Regions from separate parts of the Homo sapiens genome. Here region 2 is linked to region 1. A link means that fine-mapping ties the variant in region 1 to the expression of a gene that starts in the linked region. Tissue or cell type: whole blood. Region 1 holds a variant in brackets; the other region holds the start of a gene. All regions are shown on one strand. Distances are from middle to middle.

Region 1 (2,684 bases):
ATGAAACCACCTTTGCAAAATTATGAGAGTAAGAGCAATCTGACATAGTGTGCTTCAGCTAGCTTCTAACCTCCAAACTGTACTTGGTTATTCCTGGGTGTAGGCCAAGATAACTTTAGGAGGAATTTAGTTTATAGCTTAACCTTAAAGATGATAATAGCCTTTCCCAAAACTAAACCCCCTTTGTAAAACTAATGAAAGTCCACAAGGTTATGGTTATGAGAGAGGCCTGAATTCTGCTAAGATGTAAGCATAAACAATAACCAGCCATTGCTCCATAGGTCACAAGATTTGTAACCTCCCCAATTATTGCTGTAGATAACATCACTATTGTATTGTATTGTAGATCCTAAGATTGGTTTTTGAGATGTCTTTTCAGACTTTGGCATTTCTTTTTTTGTTTGTTTGTTTTTTTGTTTGTTTTTTGAGATGGGGTCTCACTCCGTTGACTAGGCTGGAGTGCAGTGGCACGATCTCAGCTCACTGCAACCTCCGCATCCTGGGTTCAAGCAATTCTCCTGCCTCAGCCTCCCAGGTAGCTGGGATTACAGTTGCCTGCCACCACGCCCGGCTAATTTTTGTATTTTTAGTAAAGACTAGGTTTCACCATGTTGGCCAGTCTAGTCTTGAACTCCTGACTTCAAGTAATCCGCCTGCCTCGGCCTCCCAAAGTGCTGGAATTACAGGCATGAACCACTGCACCCAGCAGACTTTTGCATTTCTTATCCACCCTAACCATGGGGTCCATGGCCCTCACCCAAAGGCCACACCCATATCACCTTATCTTCAGCCAATCAACATTCCCCACTCCCTAGCCCCCAACACCAAACTATCCTTGAAAAACCCTAACTCTGAGCCTTTGAGGAGACTGATTTGAGTAATAACTCCACCTACTGCAATGCTGAAGTCTCAGTGAGTTGATTTTATCTGTGCACCCATTGGGCAGTTACAATAATTTGCTAGAATGGTTCACAAACCTAGGGAAAGCTTATTTACTATTCCTGATTTATTACAAAAGAAATTTTAAAGGATATATATATAAACAGATGGAAGAGATGTGAGAAATAAAATAAAATCCTAATCCCTCCAACCAACAAAATGGACCCCCTCTTGGCCAAGAGTACCCCCAAGAAACCTTGAAAATTGAGTTTC[T/C]AGCGATGACTCGATGGGAGATAGGACACATCTCATTATACCCCCTTCCTTGCTAGCTGCCGTTAGGCTTTCTTCCCTAAGGGTTAAACAGAAACCAACCCTTTCAAAAGACTCTTTGCACCACTGATTTCAACCAACCATCTGACACTGCTCCTCCCTTTTTGGATTTTGACAAAGCAACTGACCAGCCTTCCTTCCTGATAAGACACCACTGACAACGGAGTGGTTCTGGCCAGTCTATGGAGAATGCACAATAAGGGTTTTCATGTCCCGTGCTTCACCTTTTGACATAAGAGGGCTGAAAACTCCATCCTCAGATTATGCTAATGAGGCCATTTTTTTGAACAGGGATCCCATGAAGGGACATGAAGCTCAATTGTGCATGCACACATTTCTCCTTTCATAAATATTCATGTCTCCTCCTATAACTTATTAAATATGTATATTCAGCCACCCTGCTCAGCATAAATTCATGTTCCTTTTGCCACTCCCTCAAAATGTCTGTTTCCAGCTTCTGCCCAGAGGCTACATTTCTCAGCCTGCCAGAATAGCCACCCTCAGGCTGCAACCCTTTATAAAGAATAAAGCTCTCCTTTACAAATTTATGAACCTCATCATTCTTCAGTTGACAGATGCATGGGACAAGGTATAGAGGTGGGGTATGCAGCTTCTATGTCCTCTCTGGGTTACCACTCTCCTAGCACCTCCATGTGTTCATCAACCTGAAAGCTCTCCAAAACCCTGCCACATAGGGTTCTCATGGAGGTCCATCACATTGCCATAGCATAATTAATGAAATCATTGGCCGTTGGTGATTGAACTCAATCTCTAGCCCCTCTCCCTTCTTTGCAGGTCAGAGGATGAGCTGAAGGGTCCAACTTGTTCAAGCCTCAATCACCTGGTTAGTTCCCTTGACAAACAGCTCCTCATTCTAGGGCTTTCCAAAAGTCTTTTCCCTTACAAAAGACGCTCCTTTTCCTCTATAAGAAATTTCCAAAGGTTTTAAGAGCTATGTGCCAGAAACTGGGGATGAAGACCAAATATATATATCTTATTATATCACAATATTATAACTGGGTATTTTATTTGGTGGCCCTACTTCCACCATATTCTACAGGCAAGTCATCCAGGGATAAGGGAGTGACATCACCTTTTGATGGGATGAGTGGCTTGCTTGTACAGGGAAGAGAGGAGTTAATGGTGTTCAACTTTGCAGACTACCACCCTATAGCAAGAGCCTTGAAAATGTATACTTCACTGTTAAACCAGTGATTCTATTTCTAGTGATTTACTTAAGCACATGAGTAAATATGAGCCAAAGATTTAGCTACATGGATGTTCATTGTAGAAGTGATTATAATAGTGAAAAATAGAAAACAACCTAGATATACAAAGAGACAAATTTATTTACTAAATTATAGTATATCCCTAAACCAATGCTATGTAACTGTTAAAAGTTATGTAGAGAGTATCCATTTCTTTATTCTTTTTTTTTTTTTTTTTTTTTTTTTTCTGAGACAGAGTTTCACTCT
Region 2 (2,684 bases), 52 kb before region 1:
CAGCACCCCTAAAAACAACCATGAAATTATGCTATGAAAACGTGAATAACTCAAGGTAAGATTCATCACATCGTTTTTTACTCTTCATCTTCAAACTCAAAGCAAATCAATGAAAAGGACCAAAATGTGTTAAACATACTTGCCACCTTTCTCAGTACTTTCATGGTATCCACTGCACGCTTCAGATTATACTTAGAGAGATACGCGATACGGGGCGGGCAGGGAGGGGGAGTAATATACAACATACGGCACATTTAAGAACAGTTAACTACCAGAAAATAGCTTCTCTGAGTTTCACAAATACGGAACTCCATTCACCTCTCCATCCAGAGGAATCCATCCCTGGGGACAGCGTCTAGACACTGTTTCTAAAAGTGTCTTTTCTGTCCCTGATCTGCTGGAGTGGAATTTGGTTATCGGAGAGTAAGTGATTTGCTGTGGGTCTTGAAGGCACCTTTCCAATCTCTTCAAGTGGTAAAAGAAAAGGATTCTCCATGCTCCTCCACCCACCTCTATCAAAACATCCAGTCATTTTAAAAGAAACAGCTGGGAAAAGAAATCATCCTTCTGTTTTGGAGCGGGGAAGACAGTTAAGGCAGCGACGCCTCCCCGGGGAGCCGAGGCGAGGGCGCACGCACGGCTTCCTCAATTGCCAGCGGTGGGCGCAGGGCTCCGGCGCCCCTGTCAGCTCCCGCTCCCTCCGCCCCTAGAGACCTTCACGGTTTCGGTCAAGGCGCTCCTGCTGCCACCGAGGGCAGGAGGTGGTGCTGCTGGTGGGCACTCCGTCCCGGTTTGGGCTCCGGTGATGTCGGGGCCCTTCCCTGCCTGCCTACCTGGCCTTCCTGCCCCGCGATGGCGTCGTGGCGGCACCATGAGCGGACCGGTCAGGCCCCGCAGCCGCCCAGCGCCACGGCCGCGGCCTCGGACTCACAGAGCTGTCACCGCGCCTGACATCGCGCCGCACTGGAGGCCCAGCTCCTGAAGACGCGGTGCCCCTCAGGGAGAGGCTCCCGACACCACCCAACTCCACTCGGCCCAGGAGGGCGTGGAGCGGGTGAGGGGAAGGGACGGCACAGTCAGCTATGGCCGCGGAGGCCCGGAGATCTGCTCTGGCCCCGGCCCCGCCCCCGGCTTGCCCTCCGCGCGGCCCCGCCCCCAGTCCCCAGCCCGGAAGCGGTGGCGCGCGGGTGACGTCATAGGGGCGCGACGGCGGACTGCGCGCGGTCGCGTATGCAGCGAGGCTTGGCGGAGCTAGGGGAAGTAATGCGAGGCTCTGGTCGCCGAGCGAGGGCTCGCGGCGGCGAGGCGAAAGAAGAGAGAAGATAGGAAGAAGGGAAGTAGGGCGAGGTGGAGGAAGAAGAGGAAAGCGAGCGTGGGTGTCTGGGGCAGAGCAAAGGACGAGGGAGTGGCTAAACCTCCGCCCGCCTTAGAACGAAAGCTGGCCGTTCCGTTTCACAAACTGCGAACCTGAAACTTCGGATATCCCTTTCTCGATGACAGCCGAAACGCAAAGTGGCTTAGAGTACTTTTGATTCTTGAAACCTTTTGTATATAAACAAGATCTCAGCTCTAGGAGTTACAACCTACATCCTAGGCCAAGCTACTTCAACTTCTCTGGTCCTCGGTTTCCTTGTCTACGATAATGATAGTACCTGCCACATTGGTTTTTTGTGTGTATGCTAGGATTGCATGAGTTTACATATGTGAAGGACGTAGATCAATTCATGGCACATAATAAGAACCTCACAGACGTCAGCAATTTTTTGTTCGTTCGTTTGTTTTGAGACAGGGTCTTTCTCTGCCACCCAGGCTGCAGTGCAGTGGCACAATCACAGCTCACTGCAACCTCTGCTTCCCGGGCTCAAGCGATTCTCCAGCCTCAGCTTCCAGTGTAGCCGGGACTACAGGCGCAAGCCACCAATGCCCGGCTAATTTTTATATTTTTTAGTAGAGACAGGGTTTCGCCATGTTGGCCAGGCTGGTCTCGTACTCCTAGTCTTAAGTGATCCGCCCGCCTCGACCTCCCGAAGTGCTGGAATTACAGGCATGAGCCCTGCCAAATGTTGGCAGTTATTAAACTGTATAGATTTGTTCCTTAAATATTTTGACTATTCCATGAGAAAGGTTTGTCCAGCATCTTGATTTCTATCTACAAAACAAAAACAAGACTAAAGGGTTCAGTAATTTAACATCTTGGTCAGATGGCGTGAAGAAATTAAATTTTCTTACTCCTATAGTCGCGATGTAGTGTACCTCTTACCTTTTAAGTCTCGTTTCAGTGAAGTTGAATGCATATTCTAGCAACTAATAAAACAATACCAATGAACATTTTTTAATTGATCGAATCAGTTTCAAACTATCAGCATCAAACACCTCTAATAAGTCATTCAGAAACCTATTGTGCAGAGTAAAAAAAAAAACCAACCAGGCCGGTCGCGGTGGCTCATGCCTGTAATCCCAGCACTTTGGGAGGCCGAGGCAGGTGGATCACGAGGTCAGGAGATGGAGACCATCCTGGCTAACACGGTGAAACCCCGTCTCTATTAAAAAAATGCAAAAAATTAGGCGGGGGTGGTGGCGGGCGCCTGTAGTCCCAGCTACTCGGGAGGCTGAGGCAGGAGAATGGCGTGAACCCGGGAGGCGGAGCTTGCAGTGAGCCGAGATCGCGCCACTGCACTCCAGCC

Evidence for each region. PIP is the estimated chance that this variant, and not a neighbour inherited with it, causes the effect.
Region 2: it holds the start of SLC35F5, and the variant in region 1 is fine-mapped to the expression of SLC35F5 in whole blood (TOPMed, PIP above 0.99). The same link has a PIP of 0.9 or more in atrial appendage.

The regions. Positions count from the first base shown.
Region 1 is chr2:113,807,958-113,810,641 of GRCh38, forward strand. All of the region lies in intron 2 of LOC105373570 (a long non-coding RNA gene), which reads right to left. Among named protein-coding and RNA genes, the nearest start is that of SLC35F5, 53 kb to the left of the region's middle. The variant T/C (reference allele first, on the strand shown) is at 1,153.
Region 2 is chr2:113,755,537-113,758,220 of GRCh38, forward strand. It overlaps SLC35F5 (solute carrier family 35 member F5), which reads right to left and starts at 1,106. Exons shown (of 16, transcript NM_025181.5): 1 at 834-1,106; 2 at 1-8. The coding sequence starts at 873. RefSeq lists a silencer at 1,032-1,261 and enhancers at 1,472-1,651, 1,832-1,881.